Homo sapiens: one gene and its partners. The protein of the gene in region 2 purifies or fractionates together with the protein of the main gene of each other region. This does not show direct contact. Each region holds a gene or a part of one and is shown on either strand. Other genes may lie near its edges.

Region 1 (4,667 bases), on a different chromosome or scaffold from region 2:
TGGTGAGTGAGGCCAGTCAGCATGGAGAACATAGCAGGCTGGAGGCTTTGGGTCTAGGGGTCCCCGTAGAGGAGTGGGGGTCATGGCTGGCAGGAAGTAGGACGGGCTCTGGCTCTCCCTTGTCCGGCCTCGCTGTTCAAGTGCAGCTCTGCCTCTGGTTGTGGGACTCACCTGATGTGCCCTGTCGGCTTCCAGAATGACGCCCAGAGCTGGGCACCTGGCGCTAGACACAGACATGCAAACACACACACACACACACACACACCAGTGTGCCCGCATTCGCACCACGTGCACGATGCATTCGTGGACACACACAGACTCATTCGACACGTGCGCAAATGCACAGGCTCCCCTAACCTCTGCCTGGAACGTCCCCTCTTCGGGGACAGATCTGGGGTGAAAAGGAAGCTGTACTTCCTTGGACAGGGGACAGAGAGCTGGGCCGGGTCCAGGGGGACCTGCAAGTTCTGCAGAGACCCTGAAATATGGTGTCATAATAAAAACCCCATTTAAAGTACTTCTTTTTTTTTATTGATTTCATTGGAAACAGAACAAGAAATGGTCAGAGCCAAAAGACTGCTCTTAAAACTGTCAAAAACATTTTAACAGAAAAAAATAAACATGACTGCATTATGAATGTTTTTAGAAGAGTTGCACAAAAAAAACCCCACTGTTACTGCACTAATTACAGTCTTTAAAAAGGTATATGCCAAAAAAAAGTATATGACCTGCCAGGCCACCACACAAAAGGTGATGGCAAATTTATTCACGCTACAAGACTAACATCTTTAAAAAAGTTTTTCCTGCATTTTATTCTAAAATCACTTTGTTCTCTTTATACAGTTGATAGTTTATTTCACGTGGTGAGTAGAAACCACACCAGAATCAGCACCGTTGTCTGTGTTTTGTTTTTTATTTTGTGTTTGTCCTAATGTTCAGTAATGGTAGAAAATAAATCAGTTTATTCATCATAGCATGTGGCTTAAAAAATCAACAGAAGGTGCCAGCGTCAACGGAACCGGCGGGGGCTGCACCCACCAAGCCACTTCCTCGAAAAGAAACGTCAGTTAGAGGTTTGATATATAGGACTAGATATAGGATTCCTTTAAAAAGCAAACCCACATTTTCTCCAAAGTTAGTGGTGGGGTCGGTCTCCTGACCTCTCCGAGCCTGACAGGAGACTGTGCCCTCCGTGCGGCCCCTGGGACTCGGCCCCAGCCACGCAGGCCGTGGGCAGGGCGAACGGAGCAGCTCGCGCTAACGGTGGCTTCGGCGGCGCCACACAGAAGAGTCTGGGCCGGACAGGAGAACAGAGCAACCCCGTGGTGCAGCGGGGACCTCGGAGGTCAGAGGAAGAAACGAGAAACTTCGCAACGACAAATCAGCATCAGAAACTCAGAAGGTGATGCCAGTGCGGACTCCCAGCGTCTCTGGCGCGCGGACCAAAGTGTGCGCTCCAGCCTGGGCACTGGGCCCGCGGTGAGGCCGCAGGTCTGGGAAGGTGGCTGGGAGGCATCCACACCCGCCCGCAGGGGCTGCAGCCTCACCTCCGACCCCTCCAGGAAGCCGGCGGCGCAGCCCCGAAGGACCCTTTCGGTTGCGTGCGGAATCTCTCCTCCTCGTCCTCTAATCGGCGACGCGGCGGTCCCTGGCTCCCGAGCGCCCCGCTGGCCGGCGGCGTCTCATAGGGGGTCGGCGGCAGCCGCGGAGCTGGTGTCGGGCAAGCCGTCCTCCTGGGCCTCCTGGGCCGCGCTGGCCTGACGCTGGGCCAGGGCCGCGCTCGAGTGCCGGCACTTGGGGGAGCCGCAGCGGCAGCTGAAGAGCTTGCCTTTGATGTCCCAGAAGCGCTCTCCATAGTCAAACCTGGGGAGGGAACAGAACCAAGGCTCCAAGTCGAATCCCACCGGCACCTCCCACAAGCCAGATAAATTAAGGCAAGGCCAAAGCTTCCTCACCCCGATCTGCCGTGCCGCATCCCAGGTCGCAGTTTTTAGAACTACAGGAAAACCACTAGCATAAACCCGAGACAAGCCCAGGAAAGCAATGCGAGCCCCGTTCCTAAAACCGTCCCGCCGGCAGCGGAGATGGCCAGGGGCCGGGGCGGTGCGTACCCGAGCTGCTCGCCGGCCTCGATCAGGCGGGTGCTGAAGAAGGCGATCCGGGGGAACCGCAGGTCCTGGTGGGCCATGAACACGCGCACGGGCACCAGGTTGGGCTCGCAGTGGTGGTTGATGAACCGGCTGACGTTCCCGTAGAACCGCGCGTCGATGCAGTAAACCTCCCCGTCCTGCAGGGCGAGAAGCCGGCACGGGCTGCAGTTAGCAAGGCCCCGACACGCCGGCCTCGCCGGGTACGGCCATGCATGGCAGTCCCGGAGCCTGCAGTTGGGCGCAGGCCCGCCATGCAGGAGGGGCCTTCTCCAGTGACCTGTGGCGGCGGTGCGGAGCCTCCGCCAGCCTTCTCCTCGCTGTGTGGCCACCCACCCCGCACCCTGCCGTCCTCGCTGGGCCTCCGTCTGTGGTGGGGTGGGGGTGGTGCGGGCCGTTCCCTTGACGGCGTCCCCATGGGGCTTCCAGCGCGGTGGAATGTGGACAGCGCCATCCCACCCGAGGACCCATGGGGCTGTCTGGCACCAATAGGAGAAAGGAGGCCGGGGCTGCAAGAGCCCCGTGAGGCAGTGGCAGGGGCTGAGGGGGTCGGGAGGGATGGAGCTGGCATCCGGGACACACTGTCTTGGTGACGAGGAGGCGGAGCAGTCCCCAGAGGGTCTGGGAAGACTCAGTGGCGAATGGCACCAGGGAGGACCGTCAGGCGGAGGCTGCCCACAGAAAACGACTTCTGCTGCAGCCCTTCCGGGTGCTGATGTGACTGTGGAACACGAGGCCGAAGAGACTGAGGCGTCCTCCTCACCCTGGTGCCTTGGAGAGGAGCCCAGGATTCCGGGTGGCCACATGGCCCTGGGCCCTGGCCCCTGGCACTGGCCTGTGATGATGGATTCTGAATTGACCATAGAGAGGGGGACGAGGTGGGTGGGCCTGACCTAACCACGCAACCCCTTTAAAAGCAATTCTCTCTGGAGACCCAGGGCTTGGAGCTGCTGGGGCCTGGATGGAGGAGCTGCGTGGGAGTAAGGTAGGTGGTCCCGGCCGGCAGCTAGCAAGGAACCTAGACGCTGCCCACGCAACCACAGGGACCTGGGCTCAGCAGCACCCTGCCTGTGCAGCCCGAGGCCCGGCACGCCCAACCCCTGCTGCGCACACTGGGCCGAGTGGGTGGCCGCCATGGCGAGCTGCGGGTGGGTGGCGTGGTTTGTTACCCAGCGACGGGAAGAGGCAACACCACAGACGACAGCCAGGCAGACGGGGAAGGAGGCACCTGGGGCTTTCCAGGACCGAGTTCCGAGAGGGCGGGGCCTGCCGGCAGAGACACCTGGTCCACAACCTGCCCCAGCATGAACATTAACCAGAGAGCCAGGGACGCTCAGAGGTCAAGAGGTTAAAACCCAAACCAACAAGCGGGTAAAGGCGTGGACGAGAGCAGCTCTCCGTCAACCTTCACGGCGCGGGCAGTGACAAGACAGTAAACCAGGCGAGCACGGCCGCAGGACAGGACCAGCCACAGCCCCCAAAGCCAAAGGCGCGGGAAGCTGCCTCCTGGTTTACCCCAAAGAAACAGAGTTCAGAGTGGCTCACCTGGCGTGGACTTTGGCCTCTGCTTCGGGGTCTGATGGACTAAGAATCTATAGGCGACCCCTCCTCGTGCAGAATGCAATTCCGGAACTAGCAACGGCGCACACACGAAGGTCTTGATAAGCAGCAAAATGGAGAGTGAGGGGCTTCCGACTGGAGGGGCCAGGCCCAGCTTTCACCAGGGGCAGCTCGTCTGGCAGAGCACACAGCGCTGCTCCGAGCTTCTAAGATGGGTGGGGTGTCAAAGTCTGTGACACAAATCTCTGCCCGACCAGAACCAGATAAAGACAACAGTCCAGAGAAGGACGGCTGGAGTAAGGCAGATAGGCAACGTGGGAGGCGGGGCCTGCGGAGAGAGCCCAGCCAATCCTAGGACTGGAGAGAAGGCACAGGGGCCACATGGGTGGGTGGGGGGAGGGCCTGCGGAGGGAGCCCAGCCAATCCTAGGACTGGAGCGAGGTGCAGAGGCCGCGTGGGAGGCGGGGCCTGAGGGAGACCAGCCAATCCTAGGATGGGAGCAAAGTGCAGTGGCCACGTGGGAGGCGGGGCCTGTGGAGGGAGCCCAGCCAATTCTAGGACGGGAGCGAGGTGCAGAGGCCACGTGGAAGGCGGGGCCTGTGGAGGGAGCCCAGCCAATTCTAGGACGGGAGCGAGGTGCAGAGGCCACGTGGGAAGCGGGGCCTGAGGAGGGAGCCCAGCCAATCCTAGGACTGGAATGAAGGCACACAGGCCATGTAGGAGGTGGGGCCTGTGGAGGGAGCCTGGCCAATCCTAGGACTGGAGGGAAGGCACAGGGGCCACGTGGGGTTGGGGGGTTCTGCGGAGGGAGCCCAGCCAATCCTAGGACTGGGGCGAAGTGCAGCGGCCACGTAGGAGGCGGAGCCTGTGGAGGGAGCCCAGCCAATCCTAGGACTGGGGCGAAGTGCAGCGGCCACGTAGGAGGCGGAGCCTGTGGAGGGAGCCCAGCCAATCCTAGGA
Region 2 (7,399 bases):
TAAATGACAATCTGAGGAAAAATCAGACCACACTTACATTTCCTATACTTTACCATTGTGTACTATAAACAGTGAGTGTCAGCTATCTAGGAAACCTAAAGACTGCCCAATGGATAGCATTTTAATAATAACTTAAATGTAATTTTCTGAAAGATTAGATGAATATATTGGTGAGCCTATGACAAATCTTACAGTCCTGACACTCATCACCTGTTGAGGTAACTTGAAAATTTTTTGGTTAAAATTAAACAAACTTAGGTCCAAAGGCCCTATATGTAACTTTCCATAAATGAATCCCATTCACAAAAAAATACCGAATATAACAGCAAAATCGCTGTCTTCCACAAGAGTACAGAAACTTGAGTGAAAAAAAAATTAATGGGCATTGTTGACAGTCATATTCTGGAAACCCCTTAACAGTGAATTGCTAAAGTAACCCATGACCCAAATTCTGTCAATGTTTAACTTCAAAATGCTCTCTGTTGAGGAAATAATTTCTGTTTCATGATAATCTTATCGTACTTCGAGTTTTCTAATTATAAAAGTATATAAACAACTCTTTAAAAGCCCCTTAAAATCATACTAATATAGCTACCTGTATGCCAATGTCCTGAATTATCCAGATTTTACCAAACATACTTTCAAAAATACAAAGCAAAGGAAAGAGTGGCTGTCATTCATTGAGCTCTTTTCTGGCGTTGCTATCCTGCTTCACTGAACTTTGTTTTGTCCTGAGCCAATACTGAAGTACTTACAGTACAGACACATTTGAGTATTAACATTTCAAGCAAAATCATTCACGTTTTCTAATGTGAATGGTAGGGAGAACACAAACCTTGGAATGAAATATGAATTCCTTCTCCATGACTCAACTGTTCTTGGTAAGCCTCCATTTCAGAGCCTCAGTTTTCTTATTTATAAAATGGGGCTAACATCCTTATGCAAATGGGCTTTATTCAGTGTATTCAGGTAGGGTGACTTGGCATTCTACATGCTATTAAAGGGTGCATACAATACTGTGGACACCTTGGCTGAGAAGATCAGACAACAACATTCTAAGAAGATCAAAGTAAACTAGTGAAATAATGTATATTTTTGTACATCAAATTAAACAGTTTCATCTGATTTAGCAAGGACTGTATTTTCAAGCATACGAAATATATTTCAAAGGTAAGAGAAGATTCATTATATCCATGAAGCTGCAAACTATACTCTTCACTTTTCCAGCCAACTCTCAGCAAATGTTTGAGATCCTTTCCTAATGTTTTCTTTCCTCCTGTTACTGGTCATGGCATAAGGCATGATGCACACATAGGCCTCCTCCCCTCCCCATAGACATTCTTTCTTTCCCTTCCCAGCACCTTGAGTCTCAGCTGCACCCTGATCTTCTTCTCTCTCCTGACCAGGTGCAGGATCCCGACTTTCAGTTGGTGGTTCCTCTTGCTGAGGCTCCTCATCACCGGGCTCCTGGAACCAGGGGTGTGTGTGTGTGTGTGTGTGTGTGCAGATAAAAAGTTTTGTTATCGATACATTTCAATAATACAAATATACAGAATACATAGATATTTCTGATCATAAGTCTAAAGACATTTCTCCAACACGATTCCACATACTTATTTTTCATAAAGTTACTCTTCCCACAGAGAGGTTACTCTAAGACAGTTGCCCTCAAGGGCTTTGGAAGCTGTTTTAATCTAAGCTGGGATGAATGTGTGTAATCTTTTGCAAATAAGCATGAGAAGGAAATCATGGGCAAAATCTGGGGAACACAAGATCATCCATCCAGACAACAGAAGAACTTAATCCTCTTGGACTAGTCTTTCCTTCATGAGATGCCATGATTATTTTTCTCAGCATGGGAGACCTTTATTGGTATATCTATACTGGTTCAACAACAATTACAAAACATAGTTTTGCAACAACAACAAGTTACAAAAATAACTTTCTGCTAATAGAAAACATCAAAGGTTAAGGCACTCACCAGCATAGGCCCAATCAGCTCAGGAGGTGGTACACTTCTCCTCGGCCTAGGCCTATATGTTGATCTTCCTCGCCAAATCATATTTCACACTGCAAACAGAATACTGTGAATTGGTAAATGCACTTGAAAAGACAGCTATATTTGACCACTTCCATGACCAAATATTAACTTGTCATTTTTTAAAAGTTTGTAAATACTTTCGAACTAAGTCTCAGGGCAAGTGTAAGTATGTGTGCCTTCTGAATGCTTGGGAAGCCATTAAGTTGGTCAAGCTAGCTGAGCAATTTCTTAAGGCTCCTGGCAAAAGACAGGATATTTCCGATGAGGTTTGGTTTCACAACTGAACTCTCCTCCGTGGAGACATTTGGGAAAATACAGCCAGAGAATTAAAACTGCAGTGACCACGGCTTTTGTCACACACCCATTTGCTGGGCCCATTTCCCCCCTAAAATCAAGTTTTGTTGGAATGCAGAGCCCCGCCCATTCAAACCTCCACAGTGGAGTTGAGAAGTTGCCACACAGCTCTGGGCCCTCCTCACTGTACACCTCTGCCAGGCGCTTTACAGACCTCAGGGCCACAGTCACCAACCCGCAGCGTTCCCAGTTCCCTTCCTTAATGCCCACCCTGCTCCTTCCCGGGTCGACACGGAGGAGTCTGGAATCCGTCCTCGGTCGAGGGTTCCAGGGACTCGGATACCTGCCCCAGCACCCCCAGCACTCGCCCCATTTTCACCTGACCCCTCTCAACTACGCGGCCCACCTTCTTCCCTCATTCTGACTTCACCACAACAAGGCCCATGGCAGTGCCACCTCACGAGGAGAAGGACGATCACCTTGAGACCCTTCGGCCTCTGAGGCCACGGGCTATGCTTTCCCACGCTCCGGACAGCCACTGGCTCCTCCTCACACGCACTCACACTTCAACCCTTGGGAGGACTGGCCTGCGGACCTACCAGCTGCGTCTCAGTGGGACAGAAAAAGTCCAGACAGCAGGAACGCGACCCTCACACCCTCACAACTCCAGGGCATTCACCACGTGGGAAAAGGGGCCGAGGGGAAGACACCCAGTGGACATGCGCAGTGAGGTCGGTGCCTGCCTAGTGGGCTGTGGCGCCTCTCCTAGCCCCACCCCATGCCGCGCCGCGCAGTTCTCTACCCTCTCCCAGGTTCCCACTGAAGACTTCGGAATGTGTCTTCTGTGGGCGGTTTCATATGCCTCCGGGACTCAAATACCACAAATAGTTTCCCCCTTCAAAACTCACTCCATGTTCACTAGGTCCTCCTCCCCTCTATGGCCCTCCTTCCTCCCCTGTCTGGGACCCCCACGACAGCAAGGCCATGGCTGTGTCACCACCTGTTAGGAGAAGGACAGGAACCTCAAGGACCTCCCCGTCGGAGGCCATAGACCGCGCCGCGGGCTCCTCCTCACAGTCTCTCCCACTTCAACTCTGGGAAGACTGATCTTCGGACTTACTGGCTGACTCCTAGTCAGCAGCACAGAAGGAAGTCATGATGTCTCCTTGCACAGCTCTGCAGGGACAGAAGGCGGACAGCAAGGCACATGGACAAGGGACTTGGGCAGCAAGGGACGTGCACACTGAGTCAGGCACATGCAAGGCCACCCGGGGTTTTCCCTCTCTCCCCAGGCTCGCATCCCTAAGGTGTTTGTAGTAGAAGGAAAGGGACTAAGAGGCTTCGTTCTCTCTCTTGCCCTACCATTCTCATGCATCCAGAAACACTGGGGACAGTCCCATGTCACCATGAGTGGAGGATGTGTCTCAGACCTTTTGTGACAGAAATAAATTATTTTATTATATATATTCATACATACTTCTTTCTCATTTATATATGCATGGGTGTCTGCCATGTTGCAGGAAATATCTGGGATGCTGGAAATGTGAAGACCAAGGAACCACACGTGGTATGTCCCATGGAGGCTACCACACTGTGGTGGGGCAGACAGACAGTTAAACAGAAGAGCAGTTGAACTGCAAAGGAGAAACACGGGGAACGGACCCAGGGGAGTAAAGAACAATGAATGTCGTGGCCAAGAAGCAAGGGAGAAAACAACACAATTTCTCAAGAAGATAATATTTCTCCATTGCCTTTGCACCTTTTTTGAAAATGAGTTTATCATGTCTGTGAACCTATTGCTGGACTCCATTCTGATCTGTTGATTTTTCCCCAGTACCACATTCCCTGGATTACTATAGAATTAACATGACTCTTGAAATTAGGTAGTGTGATTTCCCCAAAGTTATAGTTCAGAATCGTTTTGGTTTTTCTCGTTCATTTTCCTTTCCATATAATTTTGAAAAAATGACTCCAATGAAGTGGGTTGTATAAGTTCATGCAGTTTCGCTTTGAAAGGCAGCAGATAAATGTGTTAGTAGCTATAGGAGGACATGGGGGAAGAAGGGGAGTTCCCCCCTTAGCTTGGAGAATGATCCCATTTAGAGGGAAGAGTTGGTGGTTCAGGAGAGAGGAATGATCATTGCAGGAGCAAAGCTCCTGAAAAGGTGGGAGGCATGGGATCCTGAGCTGAGGTGAGGGGCTGGCTTTAGTTAGGAGCATTGTATGCAGAAGGGCGGCAGAGAATGCCAGGGCAAGCACAGGTAGACTGGGTTTTAGAAGCTCTAAGAGTTCCCAGCAGATCGCTTCTCTCCTCTAAATGAATCATTATGGGAGGTCATTCAAATGGAGGAGAGTTTCTAGCATTGTGTGGGTGTTTATATAACTATAGAGAAAGTTTCTGTCATCTTAGAGAATACATCAATCATCATGAACAGAATATTCCTAGAAATATGAATGTTGAAGGTGAGCTCTCAGACAGGAATGGGGAACACGGTGTTGGAAACATGTGGACACACAATCCCTGTAAGAAAGTAGCAGAGAATTTGGCTAGAATGCATTCTCTTAGATGCAGAGTAGAACTTGTAAGTGATGAAATTGTATATGTAGCTAAGAACATTTCTAAGCAAAGTATTGAAGTTGTGGCCTGGTTTCTCCTCGCTGTTGGTTGCAAAATGTAAGGGAGGAGAAATAAAACAACAACAGAATTGCTGAGCAAAAAGGAATCAGCCCTTGATTATTTAGAAGATTCTCAGCCTAACCAGATAGCAAGCTCTGGAAATAGGGCCAAGGGTGTAGCAGGACAACTGATTGCTAAGGATATGAGCTATGTGAGTCATGGATCCAGTCAACCATCTCAGCAGAATGCAGGGAAGGAGATGCATTTATCCAGGAAAGATCTAGGGAGGATTCAGGGTCTGTTGGCATGGATGCCATGAATTGCATCAGAGGCCAACATGTTTTTGAGGATTTTATACCAAAAGAAGCACAGCCAGCCTGAAATGAAAGGGACAGAAATGGGACAAAATAAAGGAAGAGTGACTTTGAGGGGAGAGCTACAGATGCAGAGGCTGGCAAGCTGCCACTGCCTCTATAGGCCCAGACAGCAATGACCTGGGGAACAGGAATCCAGACGCCTCTTCCTGAGCTCCAGATGGCAGAGCCACCTCCTCAATTTCAGAAAACAGGGCTTCTGCCCAGGGGTGAGGGAGCAGGGCTAACATTCAGGGCCAAGAGGGCAGAGCTGCCACCCTACTAGGCCCAGAGGACACATCATCAAGCCAAAGAGGACCATTCTGAAGCCTTAAAATCTCTTAAAGTCTGAAACCTTGCTTGGACCCCATGACTCCTTTTCTCCTTCCATCTTCTCCATTTTGGAATAGGAATGTTTCTACTATGCCTGCACCTTCATGCTGTTTTGGAAGCAGATAACATCTTGTCTGGTTTCACAAGTTCACAGATGAAAATAATTTTGCCCCAGAATACAACATACTCTGACTCTCACCCTTTCCTGATTTTGATGACATTTGAATGAGATTTGGGATTTAGAGTTGATGCTGAAAAGAATTAAGAGTTTTGAGGATGTTGAGATGAGATGAATGTATTTTAGATGTGAGAGAACATGAATTTGAGGTGCCAGATGGTGGACTTTTACATATTAAATCATGTCCCCTTCAGAAATTTATGCAGGCATAAATCATAGATATTGCATGTACTGTTCCAGAACACCACAATAAAGCAAGTCTCACACATTTTTTTATTTCCTAGTGCATATAAGAGTGATGTTTATAGTATGTTCTCACTCATAAGTGGGAACTAAGCTATGTGGATGCAAAGGCATAAGAATGATACAATGGACTTTGAGGACTCAGGGGAAAGGGTGGGAGGGGGGTGAGGGATGAAAGACTACAAATTGGTTTCAGTATATACTGCTCAGGTGATGGGTGCATCAAAATCTCACAGATCACCACTAAAGAACTTACTCATGTAACCAAATACCACCTGTTCCCCCAAAAACCTATTGAAATAAAAAATTTTAAAAATGATAATAAAATAAAATAAAAGTGATGTTTATACTACACTACAATCTGTTAACTGTGCAATAGTATTATGTCAAAAAATGTACATAACTTAATTGGAAAATACTGTATTGCTAAAAGATGCTAAAGATCATCTGAGCCTTCAGTGCGTTGTAACTTTTGGGCTGGTAGAGAGTCTTGCCTGGATGTACATGGCTGCTGACTGATCAGGGTGCTGGTTGCTGAAAGTTGGGTGGCTGTGGCAATTTATTTTCTTTTTTTATTTACTTTTTAACAAGCTAATACTACATGGAGGGCTGTGGCAATTTCTTAAAGTAAGACAACAGTGAAATTTGCTCCATTGATGTACTCTTCCTTTCACGAAAGATTTCTCCATAACAGGCAATGCTGCTTGATAGCATTTTACCTACAGTAGAACTCCTTTATAAATTGGAGTCAGATCTCTCAAATCCTGCCATTACCTAATCAACTCATCCTTTGCTGTCATTTCCACAGTGTTCACAGCATCTTCACCGGGAGTAGATTTCATTGCAAGAAACTACTCTCTTTATTCATCCATAAGAAGCAACTCCTTACAGGTTAAAGTTTTATCATGAGATGGCAGCAGTTGAGTCACCTCTTCACGCTCCACCCTTGTTCTCTTGCTGTTTCCACCATGTCGGCAGGTACTTCATCCACTGGAGCCATGAACCCCTCAAAACCACCCATGAGGGAATACACGGTCTGCTGTCGTTATGAGGAGCTTTCTTTACATGTCACTTAGATCCAATTAGTCCATGGTGCCATTCAGTTCATCTATATGTTGCTGACTTTTTTCCATTGGTTCTGTCTGATTTGATTATGCATTTTAAAGCTTTGTAGTTGAGTTCTGTGCAAAAAAGAGGTAATATAGCAGGTCTGAAACTACTATCCTTAGAAAGGCCAGCTTGCAAGACTGGCCCTTGCCTGGCATCTCTGAACTTGATTTCAGGAGGTTTCCCACCATTCTCCATCTGATAAGAGTGGTTTACTCCTCCGAAACTGTTCA
Region 3 (6,950 bases), on a different chromosome or scaffold from region 2:
ACAGCCACATCACCTTCGTCCCAAGTCAGCCCTGCACGTCGTATCCACCCTCCCCTCTGCCGGAATGAGATAGTCAAGGCAAACTGAATTGCTCTTCGTGCAGAGGCCCTCCCATGACCATGAGTAGAAGGTGCCCCCAACATGCTTCTAAGACTGGACAAGTGGAATCCACAGCTGAGGCCTGGAGGATCCCAGACCAGGAGGGCTGCCTCCCCCGCAGTCCCGGCCAGACCCCTGCCAGCATTCTCAGATCTCTTCCAAACTTCCTGTTGGTGCCCTGGCCCTGCTGGGCAGCAAGGTAGCACAGGCGTCTCCCATTCCTGCTGAGCCCTGGGCTGCCAGGGTGTTCAGGGCCCACCTGGGGAGCCATTCACAAACGCAGCCTCCCCCTTGGGGGGGGCTGGGACCTGGGAATCTGTATGAAGGAACCTCCCTGCAGGAGTCTCCCCAACCCTTCAGCCTGCACGGCCCCCTCACAACTACTCCTCTCCTGTGGCCTTGCCTCACCCTCCTGAGGCCCTTCTCAGGCTCTGCCCACTCACACCTCTCCCTACTGCCCCATGTCCACCCCACAGCCTCAGTAGCCTGGGTGTCTTCCCAGATACCAGCAGGGCCCACAGCTCCCCACTTGCCCTGAAGTGAGGGGCTGGGGCAGACCCCCAGACAGGACAGGCCCTGCCCCACAGATGGGGCACCAATCCCCGTCAGGGCACCCGGGCACAGGTGCTGATGGGCTGGTGGAAAAGGAACAAGGCTGAAGGGCTCCAGACGCTGCAGGGCAGGAAGAACGCTGTTCTTGCTGGGGTGGGGTGGGGGTGCGGGAATGGGCCCAAGCATCTGCAGCACCTCCAAAAAGCCTCTGGGGGCCTGGGGCCCACTGGCAGGGCCTCCCAGGGAGCTTCCGCTGCATCCTCCCTGGCACAGGGACAGGCTTAGGGATTTGGGCCTGAGTCCCTGGAACATGCAGGAAGAGAAGGGGACTCTACGTGTGGCCCCAGCCCCATGGCGCTCACATACAAAGGTGCATGCCTGAGGTTAGAGTCGAATACTCTGCCTTCTGCAAGTAGGGCGGCTCACAGGCCAGGTGACGCTAGGCCCCCTGTCCACAGCCTGCCAACCCTGACACCACGCAGACTTGGGGGACTATGCCACTCTCCCTGCCCAGAGTACCCAAGGGCCACCCAGTAGGCCATAGGAAGCCAAGAGACAATGGCCACCCTTGCTCACTGGGCCCCGTTCACAGCAGCCTGCTGAGGGCCCTGGTCCGGCCACTCTGCAGGCCAGTGTTGGGCGGACCAGACACGTGGGCTCCAAACACGGATCAAGGCCAAGGAGAAGCCCATCCCTCAGTTCTCACCTGTCATACTGGGAGGCATACTTGCCACCGGTCAGAGCCCTGGAATACCACAGCAGGGGCGGGGCCGGCTAGCCAGCGGCCTGCACACCCACAGGGGTTCTGGGAAAAAGGTGAGGTGGCAGGTCCTGCTTAGGGCTCCTGGGAAATGTACAGGAAGCCCATAGGGGTGCACTGGTCTGGGTTCTTCCTGCCCAGATGTCACCTTGGCTCTTTGTGGCCTGAAGCCTCTCGACCACCTCTCCACCACCCTGTCCATTTATGTGCCGTGACCAGTGACAGCTGGACTTCCCAGCGCCTCCACAGCTGTGTGTGTCTTGCATATGTCGGGTGTCACATGTGTGCCGTCCATACCACCTAGGGATGCAGTATGAACCCCCATGCTGTAGGCAGGAAAGGCCCTGCTCCATCCTGTACACATCCCCACTGGTGGAGGTGGAGGGGGTGCTGCAGCCACAGCGCCAGCCTCAGCCACCTGGCCTTTCTTGCAGAGTCTCTGGAGTGGTGGGTACCCAGTGTGCAAGCCCTGCAGAGCCTATGTGTGTCTATGTTGGGGTCGCGGGGCCCACTGGTCTCAACACTCCACCAGTGCTGGCCAAGGAAGCCCCAAACCGAGCATCACAATCTCCATGGCCCTTTCCTCTGCCTCTGGCTTGGACTCATCTGCACGCACTGGTCACATGGAGGCCCTTCCGCAGCTGACACTCCAGCCCAACCCTTGGTGCCAGGATCCTGCAGATGTACACCTCGGTGGGTGACAGAAGCTGCTCATGTCCCCAGGCAGGGACCAGACACCTGAACGGGAGGCTTCCCGGAGTGACATGCTGTCCCGTGTCCCCGCAGGACTCCGGCTTCTATCCGAGGGTCCTAAGGGCTCACAGGCAACAGCTGGGAATCACCGGGGTGGGGGGAGGGGGGCACCTGTAGGGCGCAGATTCGCGTCCCTCAGCCTGGCCGTGCGGCGAGAGGCCGCTAGCAGCGCCCTGCGGACCGGCCCGCAGCCCCGGCGCCCGCCCCGGACTCACGGCGGGGGCGTCGGTCGAGGTGTACCGCAGGATGACCTGGAAGGGCTGGTGCGCCTGCAGCTCGGGCGGCAGCGTGACGGTGAGCGAGGAGCCGTAGTCGGTGAACGGGTCCACCCTGAAGGCCAGCGGACAGCAGGCGGGCTCGGAGCCGGGCGCCTCGGGGAAGGCGGGCAGCGGGGGCGGCGGCGCGGGCCCCGGCCCGGGGGCGGAGAAGGCGAAGGCGCAGGGCGTCTCGGCGGCGGCGGCGGGGGCGCGACGGAAGGCGGCTGAGTGCAGGCGCAGAGCCGGGTGCGCGTCGAGCACGAGCGCGCGGGGCGCGGGCCGCAGCGCGCACAGCTCGAGCACCAGGCAGCCGGCCAACTCGCGCGCCTCGGGCCGCAGCTCCAGGCCCAGCTGCAGGTGGCGGAGGCGGAAGAGCTGCGCGCTGGAGGCCGAGGCCACGTCCAGGGCGGGCGGCGGCTCGGGCGGCGGGCGGACGGGCGCGGCCTCGGCGCCGGGCGCCTGGCGGCAGCAGCACTGCGCGGCCATGGCCGCCGGCACTAGGTGAAATCCATGGGCGGCGGCCGCGCCGGGCCGCGGGCGAGGGGCGCCGGGCGGCGGCGGCGGCGGGGCGCGGGCACAACAGGAAGTCGCGCCGGGAGCCGCCCGGCCCGGCCCCGCGCCGTGCGCCGCCCCGCTCGGGCTCCGCTCGGCCGCCGCCGGGGGCGCTGTGCGCGGGGCCGGGGCGCGGGGCCGGGGCGCCGGGCGGGGAGGGCCAGGAGCCAGGGGCGCGGGGAGCCGGGGAATCGAGCGCGGCGCGGGGCCGGGGCGCTGTGTTGGGAGCCGAGGCGCGCGGAGCGGGTGAGCAGCACCCCCAGCCCCTCGCTTCCTCCCCGGGCGGCGCCCGGGAGATCCCAGGAGGCGGGATCGCTGCTCCCTCCCAGACACTGCCGGCCAGGCCCCTGGGGCAGCCGCTGAAGGGACCCGGGAACCTTGGGGCCACAGGGGCAGGCTGCTTCCAGGTGTGGTTCGTGTTCCCGAGGAGCGCAGCGTCGCGAACTCAATGTCATCCTTTCATCCGGGGCTACGGGCAGGGCAGGATTCTCCTGGCACCCCTGCCACTCCTCCAAGTCTACAGGTGTGGTCTGTGCTGTGGGCCCTGCGGTGCGAGAAGCGCCGGAGCCTTCACGCAGCGCTGTCAACTACAGCAGCCACCAACCACGTGTGGCCATTTAGATGCGAATTAAATACAGTTAGAAGTTCAGTTCCTTCGTGGCAGGTGGAGTGAGTGAGTGTGTGTGTCTTCCTGGGAGGAGTGGCTAATGGACAAAGCAGGCAGGAATCATTTCCACAATCGCAGAAGTTCCTCTGGGCAGTGCTGGGGACCTCTCATTTGGGAGCCCTGTGCTGGGGTACGAAGGAGGGTCTGGCCCGCCTGTCCCCACCCCATCCGCCAGGTCCACCCTTCCCAACGCCATTCTCTGTGGACCTGGCGAAGGCTGCCCAAGGCTGAGCCTGTCCAGGAGCCTGAGCCCCGAGGGAAGGGGTGCTCGCCTGGCAGAAGCTGCTAGTGAGCTCACAGCGGTTAAATTTTGAGGCTGTGGAATAACAGGGGCCACCATGATGTCGCTGTTGTCATCAAGTAAGAATTCAAATTCCTAGGGACAAGGGGCTTCTGGGGCTGGGGAACTATCCAGGAACCCAGGACACCTCTCTCTTCTGCTCCATTGAGGTGTGGCCGTGCAGGGCTGGACTCGGGTACCGCACTCGACTCAGCGTCAGCCCTGAGTAGTGTTTCCTGTGTCTGGACTCAGTCTCCTCGTTGTGTAACCCTCTGTGTCTACCCTCCTTCCGTGGGGCGGGAAGGAAGGCTGAGAGGGAGAGTGTGCGTTCACGTTTGCGGGACAGAGCACTGAGGCATCATTTCAGTTTTCCCGTAGGACCTCAGGTCCCCACGTGCCCTCTTTAGGGACACGGCCACGATCTTGGGGCACCCATCCCAAACTCACCAGGAACCCCTAGGCTTACACAGTCACTCAGAGGTGTGGATCAGCCTCGCATCCAAGGCTGACAGGGAAGACAGCTGAGATGGGACCCTCCTCACTGCCCCCAGCGCCCTGCCCGGTGGGGCCCTGCAGTGCCAAGGGCAGACTGTTTTCGATGGCACCCCCAGTTCTACGGGGCTCTCCAGAGCCCACCGGGCCATGTTCCTGGCTGGAAGAACCTCAGTTCTGCACACGCGGTGCCACACTAGCTGGGCCTGGCCGTCCGGGGGGCAAGTCACCACAGGGAGCTTGGGGTCTTGCCACCCAGAGCCCCGCATTGGGCTCAGGGAGCAGAGGTTGGGGTCTCGCCCTGGGCACCTCTCCGCGGCCAGTTCTGCACACAGGAGTCCAGAGTTGCTGTGGCACCTCCTCCCCGGGGGCCCAAGGGAGCGCCTCCCACCGCGCACGTATGTGAGGAGCTGCCCTACTGCACCCCATGGAGCGGGAGGCGCGGCTGAGCCGAGGGGGCGGGGTCTGCAACTGAGCCGCGGGAGCCTCTCGCGCCGGCCCCGCCCCGCCCCGCCCCGCCCGAGGAGGCCCCGCCCCCGCCGGCCTGACGCCCCCTGGCGGCGGGAGGCTACGCCGCATGCAGGCCTGGGCAGACACCTCTGACTTCTCTAACCCTGGCAGAGGAGCCTGGACGTCGCGACTGTCAGCCCTGGCTTTCTCCCACAGGAGTTTTCATACTCCAGCTTTTTGGTGATCAGCGCAGTGAAGTGGCTGCGCGGCATCTGCACCCCAGCCTTCCCCTGATGCACCCGAGGGAGGGGTTCCTGGCTTCACCCACTAGGAGGTGGGTGTGGGCATGGAGCGTTTTAGCAGGCTGGGGAGGGCAGCAAAGCTTCCAGGAAGAAGCAGTGTTCAGACAGGGCCGCGCCCAACCCCGACAGAGGACCAGGGAGCTACCAGTTCTCAGATGGAGCTGGTGGGCTAAAAAGGTCTGATGTGACCCACAGGTGTCCTTCAACCTGGCCGGGGCCCTGCTGCCCTTGTCCCCTTGTCACCAGGGCCAGGTCAGCAGGTAAAGGGTGTGCCCTGCCCTGAGGCAAGGGCAGCCGAGGTTTTCATCAGGGTGTTGTGAGCAGGGCTGAGCCGCGGGGGAAACCGCAGACCCAGGTCCTCCCTCCTCTCCAAGCCACTGTTCCTCACCCACTAGTGGCGACCGGCGGCTGCTTCCTTCCGGGTTGATGAAAAGGTTGCATGAGTCATGAGGAGCTTATCTAGAGAGGCCAGCGGCAGGCAAGCCCTCCACAGAGATGGGGACTGCCCTGGGCACCAGCTTGTGATGGGGGCCGCGGTCCACAGCGATGGGTGGTGCCGGCTGGTGACACGGCATAGAGGGGCAGCGACCAACAAGGTGTGGCCTATGCTTGAGGCCCAGGTACACAAGGCGTGGGGAGGGAGAAGGCCCTTCTCACTACCACCCCCACGCTTGGCTGACAAAACCCGTGCTTCCCATCCCCCCAGCTTTGGGCTCTGCCGCATCAGAGATGTTCGGTCCCCAGGTGGGATGCTTTTGCTTAGGAACACAATCGGGTCTCACTGGGAGGGTGGCTCAGACACGGCCCAGCCACGGAAGCATGAGACAACACAGGGCTGGCTCTGGCAGGTGGGCATGAGGCTTTGTGAGGCTTGGGGGCCAGGAAGAGTGGTGCCTCCTACTTCTCTCTGGTGGTGCAGTACAGGTAACGGAGGCCACAGCACCTGTGTGGGCAGCCATGCAGGGCCTGGGGCCTTAAAAATGAAGGATCGAGTCATGCCACCAGGTGAAGGCCATAAGCAGCTTAGGCACTGGCTGAGGGTAGAACATGGAACGAGTATTGGAAAAGGCAGATAAGCACCAACCACAGTATTTTACTCATTGACGCATACAGAATGTAAATACGCGTAGTTGTATATATTAACCAATGACTACGTTATCTGTGATTCACATGTATTACACACATTTTCCTTTTCTTTCCCCACTCCTATTTAAGGAGTGTTGATTCTAGGATAGTCTTTAGGCCACAGGATGTCCAGGAGAGGTGGTGTCTGAACTAGAGAAGGAATCAACATGCTTGGATGCCTCCAGTGGTGGCTTATGGGGTTCCACCCTCACACGGCGGGAGAGGCAGCACCTTGTTGGCTTGACAGTAGCTATGTGACCTTAAGTTGGGGTGCAATGTTGGTGAAACAGAGATCAAAGTAGGAGAGGGGTGCAGATGCTGGAGGCCTCCCGGGTTCCCTCACCAGGCCGTCTGTCAGCACAGCCTCCTTCTCCCCTGCCTGTCACAGGAGGGGCTTCCCATGTTCGGTGCCCAGATGAGACCAGTGAGAGGTCTGGGAGGTGGGAGGAAGGAGATGTACTGTGGCTTCAGCAGCTGGTGGGCAGGAGGCTCTGCTGGCAGCTCCAGGTGCCCTCCACAGCCAGGACATCAGGCAGTGGGGATCTGGGTGGCAGGTCCCTGTGACTCCCCTATGTCTCCTCTCCTGTCCTTGGCTCCCCAGCCTTCTTCTCCCTGCATTCAGTTTCTTTCTGCCCAGTTCCTTAAGTGGTTTAGATTTTCC
Region 4 (2,685 bases), on a different chromosome or scaffold from region 2:
AGAGCAACATGATTTTTTTCTGGAACTTGACATGCTGATTTAAAAGTTTAAGGCAAGAAAATTCTGAAAGTTAGGGAGATGACAACCATACCACATCTTAAAATACATTAAAATAAATGTTAATAGTTTGGTCCCATTACTATATGACAAGAATGGCAGAATAATGGAATACAATAAAAGCCCAGAAATAGAACTAACTAAAAATGAAAATTTACCATATGACAAAGGCATTGTGTCAAAACTGTGGTGAAAGATGGACTGTTTGGTAAATGATTCTGGGATAAATGGCTAGCTTTCTGGGGAGAAATATTATATCCCTACCTATAAGTGCACATCTGTAAGTATATGCTGTGCACATATAGAGTGTCTGAAAGAATGCATATGAACTTTTTACTTGTTCCACAGACTAAGACAATTGAGGATCAGAAATGTAAGATTTACTTTTTATTTACATATTCATTTTTTTTAAACCATGTATAATTAGTAACCCTTTCAATGAACAAACTTGTTAACATTTTTGATTTAGTTGGCAGGCAGTTGGAGTTTGACCTTTTGAAGCATTAACTTGACTGACTTTTCTGTGTTTCTCCCCAGTGACCTGTGCATGGATTGTGCCTTGCAGCTGGAGACCTGCCCATTGTGTCGTAAAGAAATAGTATCTAGAATCAGACAGATTTCTCATATTTCATGACACATGTGAAGAGGCATCGTGGACTTTTTTCTACTCAATTCCAGCCAATGTTGAAAAGAAAAAGAAAAAAAAAACTCTCTAATCAGTTGTACACACATTGAAACTTATAGCCATGGCCAGATTTTATGCTAAAAATGGTAGTTTGTCAAAGACAAAATTCTCTTAGAATCTAATCCAACTTGCCAGCCCTGAGAAAATCCCTTTTAAGGCCAAGGAAAGCTGAATGCTAGCAGCCAGGCCTGTGGTACTTCCATGAGAAACCATAGCAGACAATGCCCTCCCAAGTACTGAAATCACACTGGAATCCCCCTTGTTGGGTTCATTTGATTGTTTAACACAGGATGTGTTGTGTCATTCTGAAGTTTTTATTTGGGGCAGAAGTCTTTATGGAGATGTAAATGACAGCGTTTCTGGGTTATGCATAACTTCTCACTGGTCAGAGACACCGGTGTGTCAAGCATGGATATTGCATTGCAAGACTTGAATCTATAAAAATTAGAATCACACAGTCAGTACTACAAGCAAAACAGAGAACCTGAAAGAAGGTGCACAGACTGTAAGAAAAAACCCAAGTTTGTGATATTTCAGTGATTCCAAAGAACATTCTAGGTTTTTTGTTTGTTTTTTTGTTTTTTGGGTTTTTTTTTTTTACTGCAGAAAATTGGTGGTATTTTCACATTCATAGTGTTTCTATCCAATTTCAGTACCCACATTTAATGAGGAAAAAATGTTTTACCAATGAAGGAGGAATTCTTAAATTAGCTGTAATGTTAGGTTGGAGAAAATTTGGTATTTAGGGTATTTTCAAGGTACCATCAAATCAGATTTCTGTTTTTTTGTTAAAAAAAATTTTTTTAATCAGTATTGTTTTTACAAGTAATATACTTTGAAACTCTTGAACTAATAGTCTCAAAAACTCTAGAGGACAGTCTGAGAACACGTATTTCTATTGTTCTAAATAAATACATGTTTTTGAATAGTTCAATCATGAATTATTGACTATGTCTTCATCAAAAGTGTTAATCCCTCTCAGGGTCTCTGGTGAAGACCTTCAAGAGTTTGGTTTTTTCTCCCAGGAAATTGGAAGGTAGAATTGTAAATTCATAGAACTTCTTTTATAATGGTGTACCTCAGCAGCTGCCTTTCAATTTATGCCAAGTCCTTACAGAGTTTATACTTGAATAGTAAATATGTCTTCTGAGTTTTACAGTGTCTTAAACTCAATGCACATTTTTTTTTCTTCTTTTTCCACCCCTTCTTGTTTGTAGTTCATTATACCTGTCCTATTACAGAACTGATTTCCTTCCTGGCTGTACATGTTGGGGTGCTGGATTTTTTTCCGTGTCTTTAGTCTTCCATAAATCCACACACACACACACACACAAAAAATATATATATATATAAATATATATGTAGGATACATGTTCTCTTCTTTAGCTTGTGGTGAATACAGTAATTTGCATTGAAGAATAAAACATCTGTTGCCTTTTTTGACTAAGATTTCACAACTTTCATTGGTGTATACTGCTAAGGTTCCAAGACATTATACTCTCAGACTTTAAGGGCTACTTTTGGGAGTAGGAGAGAATCAAGTATTAGAATTAAGAATAAGGCCACTTACTCATCCAGCAGATTGTTATTGAGCACCTAATATGTGCTGGGCACTGTGCCTATGTGGCATACAAAATATGCTTGTAGAGCTTATGTCTAATAAGCTTGTCTAATTATTGTCTATTATTATGTCTAACAGTAATTTGGAAGTGGTCCAGCTGAGACTAAAGGTAGTCTGTACATTTAGTAGAGAGAGGGAAAAATAGATGGAATTAATAGATAATTTGCGAGGCAAAGGAATGCAGGAGCCTAACAGCTTTCTAAAAATCTACCCTTGAAGTTTGTTCCTAAGGTGGGGAGAAGACAATATATTTGTGTTTATTGTAACAGATTTTTAGTGGAAAAGAATAGGGTCCTAGAGAGAATGAGGGGGACCTAATTTA

What was found.
Region 1: the proteins of XAGE3 (region 2) and EHMT1 purify together in Homo sapiens (affinity purification with mass spectrometry; 2 studies listed by BioGRID and IntAct, with this or other methods). This does not show direct contact.
Region 3: the proteins of XAGE3 (region 2) and RNPEPL1 purify together in Homo sapiens (affinity purification with mass spectrometry; 2 studies listed by BioGRID and IntAct, with this or other methods). This does not show direct contact.
Region 4: the proteins of XAGE3 (region 2) and RSPRY1 purify together in Homo sapiens (affinity purification with mass spectrometry; 2 studies listed by BioGRID and IntAct, with this or other methods). This does not show direct contact.

What each region holds. Positions count from the first base shown.
Region 1 is NC_000009.12:137,831,969-137,836,635, reverse strand, and holds the end of EHMT1 (histone-lysine N-methyltransferase EHMT1), read right to left. Parts: intron 2,288-4,667; coding exon 2,112-2,287; intron 1,864-2,111; coding exon 1,683-1,863; 3' UTR 509-1,682; downstream 1-508. UniProt on the Homo sapiens protein: Histone methyltransferase that specifically mono- and dimethylates 'Lys-9' of histone H3 (H3K9me1 and H3K9me2, respectively) in euchromatin.
Region 2 is NC_000023.11:52,865,072-52,872,470, forward strand, and holds the start of XAGE3 (X antigen family member 3), read right to left. Parts: upstream 3,013-7,399; 5' UTR 2,935-3,012; exon of another isoform or gene 2,742-2,934; intron 2,231-2,741; exon of another isoform or gene 2,179-2,230; intron 2,085-2,178; exon of another isoform or gene 2,071-2,084; 5' UTR 2,063-2,070; coding exon 1,982-2,062; intron 1,468-1,981; coding exon 1,362-1,467; intron 1-1,361.
Region 3 is NC_000002.12:240,564,544-240,571,493, reverse strand, and holds the start of RNPEPL1 (aminopeptidase RNPEPL1), read right to left. Parts: upstream 3,011-6,950; 5' UTR 2,908-3,010; coding exon 2,380-2,907; intron 1-2,379. UniProt on the Homo sapiens protein: Broad specificity aminopeptidase which preferentially hydrolyzes an N-terminal methionine, citrulline or glutamine.
Region 4 is NC_000016.10:57,238,285-57,240,969, forward strand, and holds the end of RSPRY1 (RING finger and SPRY domain-containing protein 1 isoform 1 precursor), read left to right. Parts: intron 1-594; coding exon 595-691; 3' UTR 692-2,185; downstream 2,186-2,685.